3 separate regions of the Homo sapiens genome follow, and regions 1 and 2 are each linked to region 3. The links come from fine-mapping of genetic effects on gene expression. A gene starts in region 3. Each other region holds a variant in brackets. All regions are shown on one strand. Distances are from middle to middle.

Evidence for each region. PIP is the estimated chance that this variant, and not a neighbour inherited with it, causes the effect.
Region 1: its variant is fine-mapped to the expression of MOB3C in whole blood (TOPMed, PIP 0.94).
Region 2: its variant is fine-mapped to the expression of MOB3C in whole blood (TOPMed, PIP above 0.99).

Annotation. Positions count from the first base shown.
Region 1 is chr1:46,574,810-46,582,983 of GRCh38, forward strand. MKNK1 (MAPK interacting serine/threonine kinase 1) reads right to left here. Exons shown (of 13, transcript NM_001135553.4): 4 at 5,721-5,818; 5 at 1,766-1,845; 6 at 138-211. Among named protein-coding and RNA genes, the nearest start is that of MKNK1, 25 kb to the right of the region's middle. The variant A/G (reference allele first, on the strand shown) is at 3,763.
Region 2 is chr1:46,547,406-46,555,579 of GRCh38, forward strand. KNCN (kinocilin) reads right to left here and starts at 4,242. Exons shown (of 4, transcript NM_001322255.2): 1 at 3,660-4,242; 2 at 2,529-2,597; 3 at 1,788-1,862; 4 at 1-404. The coding sequence starts at 3,810. The coding sequence ends at 325. The region is part of intron 3 of MKNK1-AS1 (MKNK1 antisense RNA 1); the gene reads left to right. RefSeq lists enhancers at 1-427, 428-928, 2,365-3,004. The variant C/T (reference allele first, on the strand shown) is at 3,840.
Region 3 is chr1:46,612,603-46,620,776 of GRCh38, forward strand. MOB3C (MOB kinase activator 3C) reads right to left here and starts at 4,209. Exons shown (of 4, transcript NM_201403.3): 1 at 4,109-4,209; 2 at 302-769. The coding sequence starts at 719. RefSeq lists enhancers at 659-1,282, 3,634-3,703 and a silencer at 4,104-4,383.

The DNA of each region.
Region 1 (8,174 bases), 38 kb before region 3:
CCAAATCAAGGGCAGTTTTTAAGTCCTTCATCCTTTTTATTAGCTTGACTCGTTTTGGAAGTCTCTGGGATTCATGATGGATGATCACCACCCTGGGTCTTAATCAGAAGTCCACACACATACTCAACGGTAAGTACCTCCTTGCAATTTCTCAAAGACCAAGTAAAACCTTGTGTCATCTTCAAAGAACTCAATCAGCTCCAAAATGTTCCTTAAATAGGGAAAATAGGAGGAGAGGGAAAAGGGGGGAAATGGTATTATATATTAAAGTCTACTTACAAATATACAATGAAAAAAATATACAACACCTGGTAGTGGGGCAGAAACCAACTTGAAATCAGAATGCTTATTAAAGACCCGCGTATGGAAGCAGCCAATGGTGTTAGCAAGATTCAGGTCACCTTATCTTTCCATAATGTTTAGTCTCTGGTGTTTTCACCAAGTCTGTGCTGTCAAACCCCAGCCCTAAAACCCACTAGGTAGAGTTATAAAAAAGTCCCGGTCACATTAAACTGAATAAAATCTGCAGCCGACTGGAAGCAATTGCGGCTAATAACACTGAATACTAGGTGTGTGTCCTGGAGGCAAGCAGCAAATAATTACTTGCCCTCCCTCTTGCCCATAAATCACGGGGCAGTATTTACATTGCCTGGAGAAAATGGAAACATCTGTCAAATGGACTTGGGGCCTAACATGGGCACCGCTAGACCCTAACTGCTAAGCGCTGCTTAATGAAACGGCCGCGTTCCTGGCCACTGTAGCACTTGTGGCCTTCCCCGGTGAGCACTCTCTGTCTGCCCGAGTATTTCAGTGCTCTGCCAACAAGGTCGTCTTGTAACTCAGTAGGGAAGCCACCAGCCTGGATATTGGAGGTGTTGTGGGCTTTTTTTCTTTTACAAAATAAAATAAACCAAGTAGAGTCTCTAATGCTGAACTAAGAAGCTGCAGGGCTGAAAATAAAAATCTGTCCCTCATAAAAAAAATGCTGACTACTTTGGGAGATATGAGGCTTTTACTAGTGTGAAGGCATCCAAATAAGATGGGCAAAATGGCCTAATTTGAAAGAAGATTGTGGAGGCAGTGCCTGGAGTTAAATCAACAGCAGCCCCCGTCCTCCAATCCTCCAAGCTTAATGACAAAGCCATCAATACCAGGCCACTGGCTCCCTGCTGACCCTACCGTGGAGGGAGAGAGGGGGAAGTGGAGTCTTAGAGGTGCCCCTGATTTAAAGCCACAGTGGGAGAGCTGCTCATTTGGAGCTGGTGGTGGGCAGAATGAACTGGGGCTAGAGATGAGCCGGACCCAGCTATCTGGAAGGTTCCAGGATCTTAGTGGTATCTGCACATATGTAAACATTCTAGGAGCAGAAACAGCAGCAAATATTCTTAACAGTTCTCCTCATCTTGGTATTAAGGCAAGTCCTTAAAGATTTCTACCAGGCAACACTCAGTCAACCTAGTTTCCACAGGTACCGAAAGAAATAAAACCCCATTTCCCCCCAACAACCACTGATTCAGATAGTTCATTCTTCTAACTTGCTTGAATTGATGATATTTACAGTATTTCAGAAGAGATAATAGCTCCTTTGCTGTTACTGCTGCTTTTCCTTTCTCTCCCTAACACTGAAAGGGGCGGAAGGAGGTACCTGCCTTGTGGGGACAGGAGTGAGAGCTAAATGCTGGAGTCAGGAGATGGTAAGAAATAGCCTCCTCTTCTGTGGCCAAGCGTCCCCCCAGAGAAGCAGCGAGAATCACATGATACTCACTTGTTTCCCTGACACTGATACAGCGTCTCCACCTCTCGAAACACCCTACTCCGACTGTGCCCTGCTTGTTTCTCGATGATCTGTGGGAAGAATAAAATCTGTCATGTACACCCACCTGACTTCCAAACAGCCCTTTGGCAGGAGTCCTCTGGGAGAATGCAAGGCCACACTCAGTCCAAATCCAGTGTCCAGCAGAAGTCTGGCCTAGGCCTTGGTGACACCGGCACTGTGGCTCTGTTGGCAAAGCAGCAGACTGGCCTCAGGGCTTTCCAGCTCAGCTGAGCCCATTCCACTCTGGCCAAGCACAACACCAAGGAAGTGAATGAGGCTGCTGCCCCCAGCTGCCCAGGGGAGACTGAGGCAGCCGGCAAGACAAAGAGCTACCTTACTCAGCTCCACCTCCTGTGGACACCTCTTTCTGCCTTAAGGGTAAGCATTTACTGCATCTACTGAAGGATCTTCTCATGCTGGAGGGAGAGGCTGATGCAGGACACCGTGGCGAGGAGCTAAAGCTTTGACACCCAGCTCAGAGGCTGCCTCCACGATCCCCCTGGCAGAAGTAGGCTCTTCCTCTTCTGAGAACTTACTCTCTGGCAGATACTGTGTTAAATGATTTATTTACGGCCGGGTGTGGTGACTCACACCTGTAATCCCAGCACTTCTGGAGGCTGAGGTGGGTGGATCACCTGAGGTCAGGAGTTCTAGACCAGCCTGGCCAACACGGTGAAACCCCGTCTCTACTGAAAATACAAAAAAATTAGCCAGGCGTGGTAGTGGGTGCTTGTAATCCCAGCTACTCAGGAGGCTGAGGCAGGATAGTCACTTGAACTGGGGAGGCGGAGGTTGCAGTGAGCCGAGATTGTGCCATTGCACTCCAGCCTAAGTAACAGAGAGACTCCATCTCAAAAAATAAATAAATAAATAAATAAATAAACAATAATAATTTATTTACATAATCTCAGTTGACCTTTATGACAACATCAAAAGATAGGGAGGTATGAAACATTTGCCTGCAGTCCAGAGCTGACTCCTAAGCCCTTGCTATCCCATACCTGCTTAGATGCTCTAACTTCTTCGAGGACCTGGAGGCTTTGTCTCTCCTGTGATACGGTGGGCTGCTCCCCCTCCACACTTTTACCTGAGATGCTTGTCAAATGCTGACTGAAGGAACAGATAAGCCAACAGATGGGAGGGTGGTTTCCAAAGGGACTGGCTGCCTCTGCAAAGCTCTCTGGACCCATCTGGAGCCTCAAACCACTGCACACCGAGCCTGTGAGCAAATCTGCAGAGCCTAGCTCTGCCTTACAGCTCCAACGTGCACAGTGGGCAGCACAATGACATCCTCTTCCTTCATTGAGACTTCAAACTTCTCCGATATGATGTGGCACAGACATCTGTGACCAACTGCAATTTTCTAAATAAGTGTGTCTGTTTGTAAACCACAGTGGGCCCATTATCTGAATGGAGAGGTGTAGTGCTGGGGAACAGAAGTGATTCAACTTCATTCCCCAAGCATTTCAGATCAAAGTCATGAAGAACTTTCTAGCAGGCAAGCCTTCCACAGCACAGTCTTCTCTGAGGAAGTAATGGGCTCTTGCTACTAGAGATGGGGGAGCAGAACATGGACAACTATCTGGGGAGTCAGAGGAAATTCAGGGTTATCTTGAAATTCCATCCCAACCTTGAGAGTCTAGGATCAGCTGGGTGCCTATAGGAAAAGCTGTAATAAGCTAAGTATTGTGGGGCCATGTTGGGAGAAGTAGCCCATCTCTAGGGAGCTTTGAAAGAGTAGGGGAGAGAAGAAACATGGGCAGAACTGCTGAAACCAAGGAATTGCCAAGCCAGAGTCCAGTGTTTGCCTCAAAGATGCCAGGGGGGATGTGGAGGAAGGGCCAGGTTTTCCTCCCATTATCCAACCTTGAAGAAATATACCTCTCATCCATAAATGTATTGAAACCTTTGAAAATCAGTTTATGTTTGTGGTTTTTACCGCATTT[A/G]GACAGATATATCAATTTTTTTTTTTTTTTTTTGAGACAGAGTCTCCCTCTGTTGTCCAGGGTGGAGTGCAGTGGCACCATCCTGGCTCATTGCAACCTTTGCCTCCTGGGCTCAAGTGATCCTCCCACTTCAGCCTCCCAGGTAGCTGGAATTAGACGCACATGCCACCACACCAGGCTAACATTTTTTTTTTCTTTTTGTGACAGAGTCTTGCTCTGTCGCCCAGGCTGGAGTGCAGTGGTGTGATCTCGGCTCACTGTGCAACCTCTACCTCCCGGGTTCATGGGATTCTCCTGCCTCAGCCTCCCAGGTAGCTGGGATTACAGGAATGCACCACACCCGGCTAATATTTTTGTATTTTTAGTAGAGATGGGTTTCACCATGTTGGCCAGGCTGGTCTTGAATTCCTGACCTCAGGTGATCAGCCCGCCTCAGCCTCCCAAAGTGCTGGGATTACAGGTGTGAGCCACATGCCTGGCCTAATTTTTCTATTTACACTTAGGCGTATGTTTTAAAAATCACTTGTAATTTATACTGAGCTGTTTCCCAAAAGAAATTAAGACAGTGCTCTTGTTACCATGTGAAGCAATACTCCAGCTGAAAGGAACGTGGCTTAGCAGACTTGCTCAACCTTCTAACCCGCAGCTGGGACTGTGGAAAGTTGGTTCAAAGAAGAGAAAACATTTCCTTCAGGAGCCCACTGGGCTGGGATTGCCAATGTGAGGTGGCATTTGACCTGGTGGCTCAGGTGGGTGATTTGAAATCAGCTTGGATTTAAAAAGACCCTTTCTCTAGGTCAGTTAGTCCTCAAACTTTGGTGGCTATGAGACTCAAGTGGGGAATCTGGTCAAGCCACAGAGATCCAGACCCTATCCTACATCTGGAAACCTGGATCTGTGTGTGCTTTGTTAGAGCTCTAAGGGCTTCTAACACATAGTAGCATTCACAACTGCCCTTCCTACAACAGTAGTCCTCAAGGATTAGTGAGTGTCAGAGTCACCAGGAGAGTTTGTTAACATTTGTATTGCTGGGCCCACCCCTGTTTCTGAGTTGGTACTTCTCAGGTAGGGCCAGGTAGCTTCTATTTCTAACAAGTTCCCAAGCGATGCTGAGGCTGGTCCAGGGCACACATTTTGAGAACCACTGCTCAAGATCCAGCTCTTCTTCCATGTGGAGAGGGCAAGTGGAGGCACAGAGGGGTGACATGAGCCACTCCAAGGCCTTACAGCTAATTAAAGGCAGCAATGAGGCCAGAAGCCACTTCTCCTGCCCCAAAACTGAGTGCTCAGTCGCTTTAGTTTTGTTTTCTTCTTTTAATTTTTTTTTTCTGAGACATCATTCAGATGTTACCAAATCAGTCACCTTAGTTTTTAATCCTCACTATCATGCTAACATCTAACACTTGGATAGCATTTTGTGACGTGTAAAGTGTTTCCACCTCTCCCAGGATATTTTAATTTTCATCTTCATAACTGCCTCAGGAGACTGAAGGGCAGGTATCATCATTTAGAGATGTAGGAACTGAGGCTTACGGACATTTGATGACTTGCCCAAAGTCAAACAGTTATAGTTTGTCAAAATAGATATTCAGGTAGGCCTTCTAATTCCAAATCTGGTTGTCCACTCCCTGAAGCTGACTTCATTTGTCAGAATAATGAGAAACTTACTATGAGCCAGGCATTGTGCTAAGCACTTTACCTATATTAACTTATTTAATCCTCACAACAATTCTACATAGGTTCTAGTATTATACCCATTTTACAGATGAGAAAACTGAAGGACAGAGAAGTTAAGTAACTTGCCCGAGGTACACAGTAAGTAGAGAAACCAAGATTTGAATCCAGTGAATACAGCTTCAGAGTCCCCATTCTTATGGAATATAACATTTATTTGGTTCAAGATGAGCTAGGAATGACTATTTGCAAAGTAAAGCCTGGCATTCAGCTGAGACACTCACTTTGACGGCATACTCTTTGCCATTCTGTAGGCTCACGGCACCTTGAACTTTGGCATAGGCTCCCTCTCCAAGCAATTCAGAGGTCAGCTTGTACATATCTAGAGGTGAAATGGATGAGAGGAATAACAAGATGAGTCACCCTACTGCAAGCTCAGATGGGAAGAACTTTTGTGGCTCAGCTTCCCTGATCAGACGACACAGGCACCCAATGACTCTAGCACTCAGTGACAAGGAAGACAAGTAGCTTTCCCAGCCACCTGAGGACCCAGTTTCTCAACAACAAGACCACATACAAGGCATCCTGTTCCTCATTTTAGCGATGAGGTTAGCAAAAGGGTCTCAATTCGGCACATACTTCCTGAATATCTACTATGTGCCAGACAGCATAACAGAGTAAGGAATAAAATAAAGGCCAGGTGCAGGGGCTTACACCTGTAATCCTAGCACTTTGGGAGGCCAAGCCAGGAGGATTGCTTGAGGCCAGGAGTTCAGAACCAATCTGGCCAACATAGCAAGACCCCATCTCTAAAATATATATACGCATGATCCCTCTCCTCTAAGGGTCGCAGTCCAGTGGGGAAGACAGACACATACACAGGTGACCCCAGAATAAACCAGGCATTGGTAAATACTATCACAGAGGGACAAAGTACAGTTAAAAAAAAAAGTTGGGGGAAGAAAGGGTTAAATCTGTTCAGAGAGGCTGGGCATGGTGGCTCACACCTGTAGTCCCGGCACTTTGGGAGGCCGAGGTGGGCAGATCAAGAGGTGAAGAAATCGAGACCATCCTGGCCAATGTGGGAAACCCCGTCTCTACTAAAAATACAAAAATTAGCTGGGTGTGGTGGCACGCGCCTAAAGTCCCAGCTATTTCGGGGGCTGAGGCAGGAGAATCGCTTGAACCCGAGAGGCGGAGGTTGTAGTGAGCCAAGATCGTGCCACTGCACTCCAGCCTGGTGACAGAGTGAGACCCCATATCAAAAAAAAAAAAAAAAAAAAAAAAAAAAAATTGGTCAGAGAATCTGGAGGATCATCAGAGGAGAAGTGGTATGATTTGAATGAATATTCATTTACTCATTTACTGAGCACCTATTATGTGCCAAGTTCTGTGTAAGCACTGGCTATACAAAGGAGAATAAAACACTGTTCTATTTTATACCCCATACATGGAAGTCATTGGAGGCTTCTGAGAAGTCTCCAGAAGTCACCCACAGGAAATAGAAGTAGGATGCAAAGGACACCTTGAGGTTTTTAGGGTACTGAGTCATAGTTGTTCTAACAGAGTAATAGACCTGGGTTAAAGGAACATCTAGATGACCTGCCCAAGCTCACAAAGAGCACAGCTCTTTGAGCCCCTTCCAAAGGAGGCTACATCTCCATCACAGCACTAGCTGCCTGACCTCATCCCCACTCGGCCTCCATTCTTCAGCCTTTTCCTCTTGAGGCACCTAGCATTGAAACCCACAGCCTGAGCAGAAGACATTTCAACCATGAATTAGATTTTATCACTCTCAGTCAGGAGAAGTCCTGTCATTGCACAAGCTGTCCTTAAAAATAGGAAGTACTCTCTTGTGTTAACTGAAAGAGCAAAAGAGCTGTTGATTAGGAAACTATTTGAATACCTTGGGATCTTTGTCTCTCCCCCATCCCCATACCCTGACACACACAGACACACACACACAGACACACACCCCTGCTGTTTGAGTTAAAGGCAAACAAAAAACCCCTGCTGAAAGTACCTTCTTGGTTCCATCACGGTTTGGTCTTTCAGTTGTTTATAAGAGCAGATGGCACACTGTTATTCGTAAGTGTTTTAAATGACATGCTTCTCACAATGGACACATTGGCATTAGCCCTTTACACATATCAGGATAGGTGGGTGGCTGGAGGTCCCATATTCCCAACCGATAAAGTGCTTGTTATTGGAACCACTTTACAGAACAGCCAATTCACTAGTGTGTCTGGAAGGCTGGAAGGAGGGACCAAGAGGCGAAGCTACTTCAGACCTCACAACGAAAGAAAACAAAACAGATGAAGTGGGGCACGTTACTCCTAGGAGTAGCTACTGATCCTCTTGGTGCTTTGCACAAGTGTCCAATCACCCCATCACATGCCCAGTGATAACAGGACCCACACTGAGCCTAGTGCCTCGCACACAGAGAGTGTCAAAAAATGTCTGATGACCCAACATCGTTTCTACTGAACACAACACGTATTCTTTAAAATGTAGTCAAACACACACAGCATAAGTAGCTACAATCTGAGAGACAAATTCTCTGCTTACAGGAGACTGAAGTTTCATTTGCGGCCATGGCCTTTGGTGTTTCTCTCTTCCTCTTATATAGTTCTATCTCTCAGCAGCCCCTCCAGGAATAGCTGAGGGAAGAATCACATCTGAAAAAAGGAAGACCCCAGGCAATGCCACTGATAGATGGGTCTTCCTGCTCCCTGAAA
Region 2 (8,174 bases), 65 kb before region 3:
ACAAATCAGTAGATTGAACAGGCAACAAAGCTGAGCTGCAGTCCAGAAAGAAAGGCCAGGGCAGGAGCCTGAAACATGGGAACCCTGTGGGGGCGTCCGGCGACACCTTGCTCCAGGTCCCAGCCCACACCAGTGGAATCCATTTTGGAGAGGCTTGGCCGGGCGAGTGCAAAAGGCCCCATTCCAGACACTGTTCCCAGCCGCTCTGGGGTCTGCAGGGCCTGGCTTGTCTCCGGTCCGGGTCTCCTAACCCAGGAGGGCACTGACATAGGGGCAGCAGGCAGGATGGGAGGGCAGGGCATGGGCAGCCGCTCAGACTTTGCCTCAGCATTCCTCAGCCCCCCGGGTCCCCGGCTTCAGCTTCTCCAGGGTCCTGCTCACGGTGGACAGGCTGCTGCGGGCTCCTGGGGGAGAGAACAGGGACGAGGACTGCCTCCGTAGACAGGTCCCCATGGAGTTGTCAGGGTCAGAGGAACTCAGAGGGACCCAAGGCCGGGGTGCCTGGTTGACCCCAGGGCAGAGCTGGGATAGAATGGGGAGAGGGGAGCATCCCAGGGGACAGTTTCAGCCCAGTTTAAAGAGGTACCTCCAGTCAGGATGGCTTTCAAGAGGGCAGCAGCATAGGCCGGGGGTAGAGGCGGGACCCCGGAGCCCACTGCCTGGTTTGAGCTTTGACTGCCGCACTTCCTGGCTGTGTGGTCTTGGGCATGTCACTAAATCTCCCTGTGCCTCGGTTGCCCCTTATGTAAAATGAAACTAATGATAGTGCTGCCCTCATGTGGTTGTTGTGAGACTTAAAAGAGCGAATAATAGATGAACAGGGCTGGGAACAGTGTCTGGAATGGGGCCTTTCACTGAGTATTAGGCATCCAACCCCTGGTGGCAGAGACTGGGCTGGGACCATCTTTGAGAAACTCCTGCCCTGGAACTTTCCAGGTGTGGGGTGGAAGAACAAGGAGATGCCCAGTTTGGGGTATGAACTTTAAACTGGGGTGGTTAAAGCTAGTACCCAAAGCTGGTACCCATGGCCTCTTTAAACTGGGCTGAAACTGTCCCCTGGCATGTCCCCCCCTCCCCATTCTATCCCAGCTCTGCCCTGGGCACTGGGAACCCCAGCTTGGGTCCCTTTGAGTTCCTCTGACCCTGGGAGAGATGGGAGAGGGGAGTGGGAAAATAAACTGAGGTATAGGACCTGGGGGAGGGGAAAGGGAGGGAGGGGAAGGGGCAGGGAGGTGCCCTCATTCCAGTGTCCACGCTGGGCAAGACAGAAGCCCTCAGAGTAAGCAAGAGGAGATCAGTTCAGCTTGGAGCAGCAAGGGTCTGACTGTGCACCTGGGGAAAGTGCCAGCAGTACCGTCTCCCCGCACTGGGGAGGCCCCTTCGGCATGCCGCTCAAGGCTCCCGGGCCCCATGGAGCTGCTCAGTCAGGGAGGGGAGATGAAAGATGGATTCAGGCTGGGCACGGTGGCTCACGCCTATAATCCCAGCACTTTGGGAGGCCGAGGCGGGTGGATCACCTGAGGTTGGGAGTTCGAGACCAGCCTGACCAACATGGAGAAACCCCGTCTCTACTAAAAATACAAAAATTAGCCAGGCGTGGTGGCACATGTCTGTAATCCCAGCTGCTCGGGAGGCTGAGGCAGGAGAATTGCTTGAAACCGGGAGGTGGAGGTTGCAGTGAGCCGAGATCATGCCATTGCACTCCAGCCTGGGCAACACGAGCAAAACTCTGTCTCAAAAAAAAAAAAGAAAAAAGAAGGATGGACTCGGGAATTTCTGGAACTTACCTTCCTTGTTGCCATTGGTGCTGGATCTTCCTTCCCCGTGGTCTGCCCCTGGATGGGGATGGATTCTTAGGCTCCCTGCAGGATGAGACCACCCCAAGCCCCCTGATTACTGAGCCATTCCCCAAATCAAGCCTAGGTTGGGAAGGGAAGTCCTTCTTGCTATCTAGTCTCCATCCCTGATGCTGTCTTTGCTCCACTGCATTCCTTTAGGTCTCACATGATCTGGGCTGATTTGGGCAGGAGAAAAAGAACTGGGCCCTTGAAGGAGAAAATGGCAGATCTTTTAGGGAGGTGAGGTCCCGGGGAGAACTGGGGCCATGAGAAGCCCCATAGGATTGGTGGAGATGGCAGCCTGTATGTGGGGAGCTGAGATGAGGTGGGAGCTGTGCAGAGGCTGTGGGGTCTTAGGGGAAATAGAGGGTCTTTCATGGGGGCTCAGGGATGGAGAGGGAGTTATTTAGAGATGTTGGAGGCTTTGGGGAGTCATAAAATCTCTCAAGGGAGATGAACTTCCCAGCTCTGAGCTGGTTCAGGCACCTTTGCTGCAGGCTGGATTCTGCCGTTCTGTAGTCATGGCAACGCCTGCACAACACACACACACACAGCAGCTCTAACACAGACAGCTAGCGCGGTCTCACACATGGGCTCATCCCAGCCACACAGTGGGTCACAGACGAGCACACAAAGGGTCTGGAACAGTCCTTGGCAGAGGGGTCTGCTGGGGTCAGGGAGAGGCCTCACCTATGGTAGGCAGGATGTGGTCCAGGTTGAACCGAGCCTTCAGGAAGGGGTAGGCCAAGATGAGGAGCCCTGAGAAGAGACACAGGGGGTTCTGTGATGGGGAGGAGCCTGGTGAGTGTTGAGGCTGTGGGTGGGCTGGGAGCCTGAGGGGTGGTTTGTGAGATATGGGTGTGCATGGGAGGAGCACAGTGTGCAGACTTGGGACTGTGAGTGTGTAAATGTGAGCCTGTGGGTGTGTGCATCTGGGTTGGTGGGGGCAGTGCCTGTTTGGGGAAGAGGCTACAGACTGTGAAGGCCCCACCTGCCTGGCTCCACCGTTCCTAAGTGAAGAGCAGGTTGCTGGAATGAGCCTGGCTGACACCACCACTGCGTCTCTGCTGTCCCCACGCTTCCCCAGGGCCCCCAGGGCCGGACTGGGTGCTTGTCCTCAGCATGTTCCTCCCCACCCAGACCTGGGGAGCAGGAGCAGTGGAGCCAGTCCTGCCTTGCCCGCCCCCGCTCCATCCCCCGATGAGCATCTGTGCCAGAACCCGCAGGTGTAGATACCTAAAGCCCCCTAGCCTGATGCTTCTGGTCCTGCCTTTGGCCTGGGCGGGGGCGGGGGGTGGGGTGAGGTGAGGTGAGGTGAGGGATGGCATTCAGCGTCACTGCGGGGCAATCAGTGGGCGTGGCCCCACACAGATAGATGGACACAGCTGCTGTGGAGGCAAACAGGGAAAGAAGACGAAACCCTTTTTCTGAGCTGGAGCCTGTCTTGGCTCAGAGAGTCCTCAGGAGCTCTGTCCTTTTACCTGCCGCCATCAACCCCCTGTTCCGCCCAGATAGGCTGATGAATCCCACCACAAATCCAGGAGCCTAGAGCTTGGGGCTGGAGAGCCAGTGGGAGTAGCCAGAAAAGAGTGTGACGGCCAGCTCTCCTTCTTTTCTCCTCCCTGTGGCTGGAAGGAGCCCCAGCGCGTCGCTCCTCTCCCGCCTGTGCCCCTGATGGCGGCCTTGCTCACACCTCTAGCTTCCGTTCTCCCCAGCTGATTCCTGCTGACCCAGCCCTTCCCTGTTCCTTGTTCACCTGACGATGCCCCTGCCCCCACCTCCAGAATCTCCCTTCCCTATCCCAGCCCAGCCCCTGCTCACCCAGAACAGCAGCGCCAATAAAGACACCGCCCATGGCAGCTGCAGCCTTGGATACGGAGATGCCGATAATGATGCTGCCAGCCACCAGCCCGAGAGCCACGCAGGCCAGCTGCAGGCCGCGGAAGTCTCTGCTGCTGATGGGGATGTCCATGCAGGCCCACCCGGGGCACTGCCTCCAGC[C/T]GGTGCAGTCTGGCCCCAGAAAAGTCCTGGAAGTTTCTGGGCTCTTGGATGTCTCCTTGTTGGCGCTCCAACTTCAGGGTAGGAGTTTCTGGGCAGTAAGATGATAGGTGGGGAACCCTGGGATTTATCTGCAGTCCTATTCCACTGCTCCACTACGGGCCCCCCAGTCCCACCTTGACCAGGGATCTGTACGAGGTCACCCAGCTTACTCTTCCTCTCTCAAAGCCCTCTGAAGCTGAAGCCCACCCTTGGGACTCCTGTCTGGCTACATTTCTGCTTTGGCTGCCAGAGTTCTAGGGAGCTGGGCCTGTTCCATAGGATCCTTCCCTGCCAGCCTCCACCCAGGAGAGTTCAAGCTCCCCTGCCCAGGACATCCTGCCCCAGCTTCCTAGAGCCACTTACTTGCCACTGAACCTCAGCCTATGAAAATTTAAAGCAATGAGAGGCAGGGTGAGGGGGGAGTTGGTCCAGCGGCCACAGGCTCCTCAGAGATGTAGGCAGCAGGGAGGTGCTGAGTTATTCATGAGGTTGCAATGTGAGTGGCTGTCTGGGTCCCAGGGCCCAGCGGGCAGTCAGCCCAGGTTCCACTGCTGGTTCCTGAGGAGGAAGAACGAGCTGGTGGCTTTGCATGTCGTTCAGAAGCCAGGGATGTGAGGAGACTCCTGATCACATGCTCAGGGCCCGCTGTAATGTGCTCTGCCCTTTGGCCTGGAGGTGCACCTGGGGTCTCTGCTTGGAGTCTGAGATAGACACACAGCAGGAGGCTCAAGAGACAGGAACTGCACCTGGTATGGAAAGCGGACAGGGAGAGGCATCCCTCCAAGTCTGCTCCCTACCCCTGCCCATCCCATCCCCATCCTGTCCACCTCTGGGCTCCCAGGTAGGGCTGAGGGCGTCCTAGTTTGAGGCTTGATCTCAGGGGACTCCCTTGTCCTCAGGTGGGCTTGGTACCCACCCCCCTTTTAGTGGCCAGTGGAATGGAGAGTGAACCCTTCTAGCCACCTTGGGGATCCCGACTGGGAGTGAAAGGGAAGAGCAGTGGTGGTGCTGGTGTGGGCAGGAGGAAAACACCTAAGGGGTAGGGTAGAGAAGAGGACTTGGTAGGGGCTAGGTGCCGGGAGTGGGAGGCTGGGTCATGGTTGGTGCCTTCCCATCCGCTGAACTGAGCACCTGCACCCAGCCTGTCTGAGTTACTTGCAGGATGCCCCACCCCAAGGCTGGGCAGTGGTCACCAATGCAGCCTAGCCCTGAGCCCTGCCCCGGCCCCCAGTTCCAGCCTTTATCATTCATTGCGTTATTTGGCCCTTTATGGATTGGGGACCCCCCAGTCTCAGAATATGGCCCCGGCCTGGCCCTGCACCTGGGCACAATTCCTAGGGTCCCATAATCCTGCTCGGAGTCCCGTCGCCAGCCTCCCTGGCCTCTCTTTGGATGCCCCCTCTCTGCACTGCATCTGCAGTCTCATATTGCCAGGCTCAACTTCTTGTTCCTCCACCTGCCTCCATGGCTGCCCTGTTCTTGTTCTATCTCCTCTGTAGGCTGAGAGCCCCTTGAGGGCAGGTTCCAGGAGTGAGCTCCCCAGAATGCTGTGGCTGGGAGGGACCTGAGCTAGGCTTCTGAACATGAGGACAGAGTTCAGGGAGAGGGCTTGGACTGCACAACCACCTCCAGTCATCAAAGAGGAGGGCTGTGGACACAAGGGAACCTCTGTCTCTAACAAGAGGCATTCCTTGTATGTGGAGAAGGGGGCCTGAGAAGGCCCAGGGTCACCTGAGTTGGAGCTTCGGCTCATGATGAGTCTGTAGAGAGGGGTGACTGCAGCACACAGATGGGCCCTGGACTGTGTTCCTGTTCCCCACAGAGGGAACACCCCTGGAGCTGGGCATTCCCCAGCCACGGTGCTGCTGCCAGCATCTGCTGTGCCTCCTGCCTGGATGAGATCTGATTATTCCTCTAATTAGGCATCAAATCATAGCCCATGTCTCTGTCACACATAATTGATCCCCCACTGACTTAGTTTTAGAAGGAGCCACCAAAATAATTGTCCATGAAACGTGTTCCTTGCTCCTCTCAAAGTCTAAGGCTGAGGGCGACTCTCTCACACCCTCACCAAGATAGAAGCTCTTGGGGCCGCGTTTTCCACCTCGCACTATGGGGCTCGGGCCAGCCATTCCACCTCCCTGAGCCCACTGCCTTGTCTGGTGATGGGGATGGGGGTGGCAGAGGCACCTGTGCACTGCTTCAGATCTCAGAAAACACTGTGATCTCAAAGGAGAGGCACGTTAAGCCTTTTTCAGTTCCAAGATCACAGAACCAGGGCCGTCCCAGCTCTTCATATAGGTGGGGAATCCAAGACATGGGGAGACAGAGGAATTGCCCCAGAGTCCTCATGGATTCTGCCCCTCTGGGAAGTACTCTGGCCTATCTGCCCCTGAATTTCAACACTGTCTTAGTTGAGGTGGGAGGAACTGGCAGACCCACCTTCAGAGGGAGACATTGAGTTAAAAAATTAGTCAAGGGACCAGGCACTGTGGGATTACAATCCCAGCACTTTGGGAGGCTGAGGCGGGAGAATTGCTTGAGGCCAGGAGTTCAAGACCAGCCTGGGAAACATGGTGAAACCCTGTCTCTACAAAAACAAAAATTATCCAGGCACAGTGGTGTGTGCTTGTAGTCCCAGCTACTTGGGAGGCCGAGGTGGGAGGATCGCTTGAGGAGGAGGTTGCAGTGAGCTGAGATCACACCACTGCACTCCAGCCTGGGCGATGGGTGTGAAATCCTGGCTCAAACAAACAAACAAAACAAAACAATGAAAATCAGTCAAGGCCTGCCTCTTTCCCTCAGGACCAGGAGTGCATCATTAAAGGTTCCCAAAACAGTTGTGATGTAGAGAGGGAGGCCTGCCAATTCTTTCCTCAGTTTGGGCTATATCATCTCTGAAAAAGAAAATGTGTGTCCTTGAGTGACGTGCTCAGAGCAATAGGTAAGTGAGTTCAGGAACCTCTCTGTGAGCCATGCTGAGAGGGAGGCCCAAGGCACCAGGGCTCCATCGCCCCACCAACCCTCCACCCCTCCCAAGGATTGGAGCCTCCCCGCTGAACCTGGGTGCTCTTGGAGGCCACAGTTCTCAGGCATGGCAAGGCCACGGGCACATTGCTGAGTTCCATCACCCAGTCTCTTCTCTCTGTCTCCTGCTGAGGCAAGGACTGTGGAGCGTCTGCCCATGCTCCTTCCTTCTCAGTGCACCAAGTCCAAGTGTGGCGTGGGGGTGGGGAGGAACAGTGGGCGAAAAGGCCCCAGTTTGGTTTGGTTCTGTTTATTTTCCTTGAGGGGTGAGAACCCTGGAAAAGAGCGTGATTAATTCACCAATCCCCCGGGGGACAGGTAGCTTTCTTGGACCATTTGGAAGCTGAAGTCAGGGAAGTGGCTTCCAAGGCAACTGCTACCATGGCAACAAGAGTGCCAGCCTTTGGGGGACCTTGCTCCTCAGCCCCCTCCAGACCTGAAGCGGCTGGAGTGCTGGCATGGGACCAAGGCACCACTATTCATGGGGCTGGGTGTGGGAGGGCAGTCGGCCAGGAGGGAGGAGGCGCCCCCAGAGCCCAGGCAGGTAGACACACAGAGGGACAAAAACTGGACGGTCCCTGTGCCCAGAGGCCCTCAGACTGGAGTCCTCAGGATCCAGCTGAATCAGGGCTGGGGCTGGGGCTGGGGCCAAGGCCTGATCACTAGGTTTGAGAAGAGAGACCTGAGGTTTGAGACACTCCAACTGGCTGGGACCAGTGCTCTCCTTCTAGGCCCCGCCCACGCATGAGCTCTGGAGCTGGGGAGCTGCCTTCCATTATCGCAGATCCTATGCCTGGAAGGGGCTCTGTGGTCTCAGAGCCTCCTCAGTGCATCTGCTGGATCTGCCTCTGTCCAGCAGAGCCAGGACTTCCAAGGTCACCAGTGAATAGTGGCAGAGGCAGTACTGGAACCCAGGGCTCAGGTCCGAACTTCAGGCTCTTCCTGTTGTGCCACAGCTGCCCCTCTGGGCCAGGGACTGCATCCCGGAGGGGTGGAGCAGCCTGTCTGCCGGAGGATCCTACAGAGGGACAGAGTCCTGGCTCATCTTAAGAGGCCCAGACCTACCTCCACAGCACACAGTGCTTCTGTAGAGTGCTCCCGGAGCCAAGGACCAGGGAGGGCTCGTCTCTAGCACTGGGACCATGAGTTGTGTAATTCTGCCCTGGTAGATAACAGTAAATACAGGAGTCCCCCATTATCCCTCGGGGACACGTTCTAAGGCCCTTGGTGGATGTCTCAAACCGTGGACAGTACCAAACTCTATATATA
Region 3 (8,174 bases):
GCAGTAAGCTGAGATCTCACCACTGGGTGAAAGACCGAAACTCTGTCTCAGAAAAGAAAAAAAAAAAAAAAGAAAGAAAGAAAGAAAAAGAAAAGAAAGAAAAGCCCCAAATTGGGAGTCAGGAAGTCCTAGCAAATGCTTGACCTTGAGCAAGGCACTTAACCTGTTTCAACCTCGCTTTCCTCTTCCACAAAATGGGGATGAAAATCAACCCCCAACCCTGCAGAGTGTCTATATCAAACTAAATCCTCATCTGTGGAATGGGCTCCCAGTGGCTCCCTCCCCGCCAGGTGACACTCACCAACACGCGTGGGAAAGACCTCTTCGTCGTTGATGAGGCCTTCGATCCAGTCCATGAGCAATGCCATATAGCGCGGCGCAGAGAGCTTGGCGGGCCGCCGGTACTGGCGCTCGTCCTGCCAGCGGTACTCGTAGCGGGGCCCGCCGGCCATGACCGGGCAGCTGGTCTCACTGCAGCGCTCCGCCATAGTGCCGTAGATGAGGTTGATGCGGTTGAAGAAGTCCACCACGTGCACGGCGATCCAGTCGTCGATGTTCTCCCCGGGTGGTAGCCTCACCACACTGCGCAGGTCCAGGCCCGACTTGAGAGAGGCCTGTGCCTTCTTGTACAGCTCAAAGCGCTGTGTGCCCGGCTCAAAGCGCTTCCGCGGCCGGAACGTCTTGTCCTTGGCGAACACCTGCTTCAGGCACAGGGCCATGGCCAGCTGGGCCTGGGGCTGCTGTCCAGGGGCTCGGACCTGAGGATACCCTGCCAGGGACAAGGGCATAGGGGAGCTGGCGGTCAAGGCCTTATCATCTGGGCTCTGACTTCCCAATTCATCATTTCCCTGTCACCTCTCAGCCTTTGCTCAACCTCTGCATCCTCTGCCTGGAATCTAAGTCCTCAGCCCCTAGGTCCAGTGCCCCGCCCTCTTTCCAGGCTATGTTAGTCCCCCTTGCTAAGCCCCCACAGTCCTCCCATCTTGCTTTGTCTCTTTTCTGCTTTCATTGCAGAGCTGGGCCTGGGCTCTAAACAGGTGCCCCTCAGACTTGCTGTTGGTCACGAGAGAGGTCGCAGAGGCTCCCTGCAGGCCCACCAGCAGACAGGGGCTTGGACGAGATGACCTCTGGGAGCCCCCTTGGCCAGCTGGTGCAACGTGGGAGAGCCTCGCAGCATTGTGCTGGGGGCAGGGTGGAGGGGGGTCGGGGGTGGCTTTCGGCTTCCTCTGGGATATCCCGTAGTCCATCCGGCCACCGGGGATTCCCAGGGAGCAGCAGGGAACTTTTCTACCAAAAATGTCCTTTCCTTTTTTTTCACCCTGAAAGAGGAAAGGGCCCTCCCGCTGCCAGCTGGGCGGCTTCTGAGTGTGGCTGCAAGCACTGGAGGAGGGGGAGGGCGGCAGGCCAATGAGGGCGTCGCTTCCTCTGACAACAGCTGGAGATCCTTCCCCTCAAGCCAGCCTCCTCCAGCCCCAAATCTGAACAAGCCACTGGCTCCTCCCGTTGCACCTGACACTCAGTAGACATTCCTCTAGCAACTACTATGTGCCTGGCACTGGGAGGTAGAAGAGTATAGTCAGATGCACCCAGGAGGGCCCATCTAGAGCTCAGGCAAATTTACTTTGCCTCCTAGAATTTAAGGATCCCAGATTCAGAACAAATTTTGGGAGACAGTGATCAGGGCCCTAGGCTCAGAGGCAGGAGTCCTGGGTTCTAGTCCCAGCTCTACCACTGGCTTACTGGGTGACCCCTGTATCACCATGGATTTAGCCCATCCAGGTCCTGGGTCACTCTGCTATAGCTAGGTTTCTAAGACCTGAGTCATCTCATCTCAACTGTGAGTGTGTGAGCTACTGGGAAATGCAGACCCATGTACCTACCAAAACTAGAATTTAGCCACCCACTAAGCACACTGCCCCTGCCCCTAGACTGAGCACTAAGGCTGAGTATAAGCTAAGAATTGCATTCTGGTTCCTGGCTGACCTCTGACCTGGGCTCTGGCAAGTGTGAGCCCTGACTCTAGCCTTTAGCCCTACCCTGAGGCTTGCTTATGGCCAAAGCCTGGGCTTGACCTCTGACGCTGGAGCACTGTCCTTTCTCACATCTCTGGTAACCCTGGGACAGGATTGGGGAAGGGAGGGTGGGAACCAGGTGACACCTGGGTAAAAGCAAAGGGATGGCACATATTTCGGGGAGGGGTATTACTTCTGGCAAGAAGTCAAACTAGCTGGGGAGCTGTTTGAGACAAAGGTCCTTCCTTGAACCCACAAAGGCAGGCCAGGATGGGGGCAGTCTGGTAAAATGAGAGCAGCTTGGAGAGTAGAAACAGGCCATTCAGCAGGAACTTGTTCTCTTGAAAAAAACTCACAGATGTGAAAGGTCATCTCATCCATCCCGACTCTTCGACTTCTCACCCAAAGAAGTCCCCAGGGTGGGACCCCAGTTTCCAGAGCAAAGAGATTTCTGCGCTTCATTTGCCATCTCCATTTTAAACTCTGCTTGGGGCAAGTGCTTCCAAAATCCCTCACACTGCAATTAGGCGGGGCTCCTGGGCTCCCCACATTGCATGGCCCCCTTTATGACAGTTAGAAATAGGCCCCCACCCTGGCATTCAGCACCTTGTCCTACCTTTCCTGCCCCACTTCCCACCTCCCCACACCAACCACCCTGGGCTTCTTCCTGATTCCTGAACACGCCCCCACTCTTTTGCCTCTGCATGTTTTCTTATCCCTCCACCTGCCTGACCACACATCCTCAGATTGGCTGCTACCTCCTCCCACAGCCTCCTCTCCTGAACTCAGATCTCCTTCTCCTTGGGTAGAGGCTGCTTTTGGTCATTGCAGTCTCCACTCCATCCCCAACCCACCCCCAGCTTAGGACAAGGCCTGGCACAAAGTCAGTGTTCAGGCTTTAAGGAAAGCTTAGACTAGAATCTTAGAGTTAAAATAGCCCTGATAGATCAGCTGGCCCAACTCACTTGTACAGATGGGGAAACTGAGGCCCAGATGAGGAAACTGAGGCCTAAAAAGAGGACTTGAGGAGCCTGTGTCCACATAGCAAGTTACAAGCAGAACTGGGAACTGGGATAAGGTGGGGCTCAGCTCATGACCAAGAGTAAAAGACCATTTTCCTGCACTGGCTCATCAATGGTCTGGTGGAGACAGAGAAGAGGAGGGGAGTGGAGGGACAGTGGAAGCATCTTCTCCACCAAACAGCCCAACCTGCTTCCTGTCCCCAACACACTGACTCCGCACAGCAACTGGGGTGTCCTGACCAGTGAGCTAGAGTTCCACCTTACTCCTGTGGAACTTCAAGGCCTGGGTCTCTTTCCAGGAAAATGTAAGCTCAGGGGGTGGGTGCAGGGCAGGTGCTCTTCTAGCCACAGGGTTAACTCCCTTCACTCCCCACCCCCATGCCCTCACTGAGTTTCTATCTGTCACAGAACCTCTGTCTCTCCCTGAACCACTGCCGTTCCCCGTCCTAGCCCCCATTTCCCAGTGATGGCTATCCTTTCACTCCTGGAGTGGCAGTGCCTTGCTCGTTCCCTGGGTGCGGATCTGGGCTTCTCAAATGAAGACAGCAGGCTGACCCTACCTGTTTCTGATATTTAGCCCCCTGCTAGGCTACATCTACCACTCCTTGGGCCTGGCCCAGGATCTGGGCCAGAGGATGGCCCCAGTTTGAACCCAGAATCCATCCTGGGACTCTCTCTAGGACAGAGGTCGAAGAGAAAAAGTAGAGGCGAAGACTCCACGCTCTCCTCGCGGCGCGCAGCCACCCACGCCCACCCCCGGCTTCCCTGCAACCTCAAACCAGCTCCCAGGGCCAGGAAGGTCGTAGGACCCAGAGGAGCCCGCCTGACATTTCCGCTCCCCGAAAACACGCCCCCCAACCCCTCCCCTCTGCCCCGTACTCCCCCACCCCGACAATCCCCCCCGCAACTTTCGAAGCTCTGAGCCTCGGACGCCAGCCTCAGGACAGCGGCCAGCCTGCCTTCGGGCGGGACTCTCCTCCGGACTGTGCCACGCCAGGACGGCCGAAGAAATGAAAGTGGAAGCCAGGCGGGCGGGGTGCGCGGCGAGGCCGCAGGGGCACGGCGCACACTCACGGGTCCTCTTCTGGCCGTGGGGTCACATTCCCAGCCACAGGATCGCCTTTCTCCTGCAGGTCCCGCAGTGCCTGTTCTCTCTCCTGTCAGCCTGTCCGTCTGCCTGTCCTGCCGGCCGCGGCTGCCCTCCTGCCCCGGGCGACGCCAGCTCCGCCCCGGCCCCGCCACGCCGCGGCCACGGGGCGGGGAGGGGCGGAGAAAGGGGACTCCCCTCCACTCCAGTACACAGACGCACTCGCCCCCACCTTCCCGGAAAGTCCATATGGGGCTCCCAGCTTCCCCTTGGACAAAGGACTAACTGAGCTGCCCGCCCTCTCGGTGCTTCCTTGGACCTCCACCAAGGAGGCAGCCTCAAGTTCCCAGACAGTAAAATGGGAAAACGCTCGGCTTCTTCTGGAGCAGAAACAAGAGCTGCTAGATAAGGGTGGTTTCTTTGCCCTCCTAGAATCGTCTGCGTCACACTTGTCCCGGGACCCAATAAGGGATCGGGACCGTCCTATCCACTCCCATATCCTCAGCTCCTGGCACATAGCAGGAACTCAAAACCCACTTGATGAATGAATGAATGGGTGAGTGAAGGAATAAATGAACGCCTTGGGAATCATGAGCTGAGTCCTTCACCCCTGAGGGACAAGCCCCAGAAGAGCGCTCAAATCACAAACTTCATCTCCTCACCAGGGAGGGGGCCTGGCTCAGGTTGGGCTGATTCTCCTTGCTCCTTACCCAGAGTCACCCCATTTCTTATCTCCAGACCCTTATCCCAGCTGTTCCATTTTAGAATACCTTCTCTCCCTCCTTCCTTCTGACAAATCCAAACCACTCAAGATCTGATCTGCTCTCCCTACCACCTGGGTTCCTTCGAGGACAGACAGATATCCCACCAGCATTCAATGCACACCGTGGCCCCCAGGCCCAGGGACCAGTTGGCTGCTCTGTCTGGGATGGGAGGGAAGATTGGAGGCTTTCTAGGGTAGGAAGCCCAAAGCAGAGAGCTTAGCCATAGAAGCCACTCTGGAGGGGTGGGAGGTGAGTAGATGCGGGTAGGGGAGAGCTGGAGGCCAGAGGTGGGCATTTACCATGGCACACTGGACCTCCCTTGTGTCTGGACCTTCTGTTGCTGGATGACATGAGAACACGCTAGATCCTTAACCCAGATCATATCCTTTGCAGCAACATGGGCTGGAGCTGGAGGCCATTATCCTAAGCAGACTAACACAGGAATAGAAAACCAAATACTGCATATTCTCACTTACAAGTAGGAGCTAAACAATGAGAATACATAGATACTAGGAGGGGAACAGCAGACACTGGGGCCTGCTTGGGAGTGGAGGGCGGGAGGAGGGAGGATGAGACAAAAATACCCATCAGGTACTATGCTGCTTACCTCGGTGATGAAATTATCTGTACACCAAATCCCCATGACACAGAGTTTACTTATATAACAAACCTACACATGTACCCTTGAACCTAAAATAAAAGTAAAGAAAGAATCCCAGCTCATAGAACTGTGGGTATGTTCTTTTGTTGAGCACCAATTTTTGCCCCAGTCTAAAGTTCTCTGTATTTTTATGTCTGACTCTTAACTCTCTGCCCTGAATCCCCTATAAACAAACACTTGCTTATGGAGCAAATTAAACTATGCTTCTTTATTTATTTGATATCCTAATCAATATCTTTTATTGAGTATAACTCTCCACTCATATCAGATCAGGGGACTGGGTGATAAAGCTGACCTGGTTGCCGACCTCAGGTGCTGACAGGTCAGTAAAGGGGACAACACACAGAGATACACAAGGTCACAGCTCAGTCACCCAGAAGTGAGAATGTGGTTGTGGACTGACGGACTTTGTAAGAGTCGGGGTATTTGCAGGAAGCACATGGAACACCCAGAATGGGTATGTTTAATGAAGACATTATTTACAGGTATGGTCAAGGTGTAGGGAAACCACACAGTGTATCACCAAAGGGCTCACAAGAGCAGAGGCTGTCAACCCCAGGCTGCAGGAGTGTGGGGAAGGAATGGTGAAAGTGGGAGCTATGAGGAGGGCGCTGCTGTGGCCTAAGGTGGAGGGGCATACCCAGCTCACAGCAATCATACAGGGAAGGACAGGGGGCAAGTAAGAGGCCTCACTCTCCTCCCTCTCTCCCTCCGTCTGATCTCTGGCCAGGTTTCCCCCACTAGCTGAATCCTCCCAGAAGCTAAGAACAAGGGAACCTGTTGCTGCAGCCCATAGACGTCAGCCTCCTAGGGCGTAGAAATGGGTAGAGGGTGGAGAGCCATCTGAGGAGCCATGTGGGGTCAGGGCTGACTTCATAGGGGAAATGATTTGGAAACTGCTTGTGTTTTCCTTATCATTCAGTTCTAAATAGTTCATAAATTTCAGTGTAATTTCCTCTTTAACTCTTGAATGATTTCAAAGTATGTTTTTCAGTTTCTCAGCCTATGGGAGGTTTATGTTTTTCTTGTTGAGTTCTAATTATATTGCATTGTGGTCAGAGATCATGGTCTGGAAGATTCTTCAGAATTTGATGTGACTTCCTCTGCAGAGGCTTTGTGCAGGGTCATTTTCTGGACCTCTGAGCTGGGTTTTACAGGATAGGCAGGAGTTTTTCTGGTGAAGAGTGAACAGCACAGAACCTTACACTGTGGGAAATAGAGATGATCCATTTTGAAGGAACATCAGAAATTCCCAGCTCATCCTCAGAGTCCCTGGGTGTCTGTGGGATGGGAGGCAGGTGGAAGGGTTGGGGGAAGCGAGAGAGCCCAGATCTCTCAACTACCTGTACCCTCTTCCTGCCCTTCTCAGTCTTGGTTAGAGAGACTAGTTCTTCTAGGAGGCTCTGCTGGGGCTGAAAAGACCCAGACCTTGGAGAACAGTGTCCTGGCTTTACCGTAATTTAGCTGTGTGGCCTTGGGATGGTTCTGCCCTCTCTGATGAGACACTGTAACCCTCCAGCACTGGAGACCTACACAAGATGGGCTCTGTTCCCTGCCACTGTGTCTTGAGTATGATAAATGGCTCCAGAAGACTTCAAACAAGGCTCATCTCTGAAGCTTGGCGTGAGCCAGTGAGGACCTAGGAGAGGACGTGCCCTTTTCCACTACTCAGCCTGGGCACATGCCCCCCTCGCAGTGGGAACTCTGAGTGGCAGCAGGGTGGTGTCTACCTGCTGTGTGCCTTTGGGAAAGCCCTTGCCCCTCTCTGGGCCTTAGTTTCTACACCTCTACCATGAAAGCATCTTCTAGCCATACGAAGTACCACTCCAAGTACCTTATCAGAACCAGCTTCCTGTGCCTTCCCGCTGTAGGCCTGTATCCAGTGACTCTACTGATACAGAGTGGCCACTTCCTGGGGACTCCCCAGCCCTTCCTATGCCAAGAAAGCTCCCCCACTCCCACCCTGCCCCCCAGAATAAGATACTGCACCCTCAGTTCACCTTACCAGATGTCTGGCAGCTACTATAGCCTGATAGGGCCCACCCTCTACTCACTCTCTCCCAAGAAAGAGTTTCCATTTCAGCTTCTGCCCCTCCCTGCCCAGGAGGCAGGATCATCCGTCCTGGATTTTCCATCCTGGCCCATTGAGGAGAATGCCATGGGCACCCTTACGGCAGTCAGAGGAATTGAGGTTAAACTTCCTTTCACTTGAAGAAGACAAGGTTCAAGGGAAGATGGCAGGGGAAGACAAGGTTGACAAGGACATGCACTAAAATTCTGTGTGACCATGGACAAGGCACTTGTTCTCTGAGCCTATTTCACCTTCTCTAAAGTAAAGACAACAACAACAACATCTGCCCCACAGAAGAGCTGAGAGAATCAAATGTGATAGCACTTGTAAACAGTAGAAGGCTGTGGTCAGTCTGTTTCAGGGGTACTGCCTTCAAACACCCAGCAGGTGTTTGTGTGGAAGAGGGACTGAGCTTGTTCCAGGGTCCTGGAGAGCAGTGGGCAGACACCCAGGACAATATGAAGGGGCGCTTGGCACATCAGAGCTGTCCAACCATGCAGCCGGGATGGCTGTGCTGTTCTCTCAAGAGGGAGTGGTGCAAGCAGAAGTTACCAGTC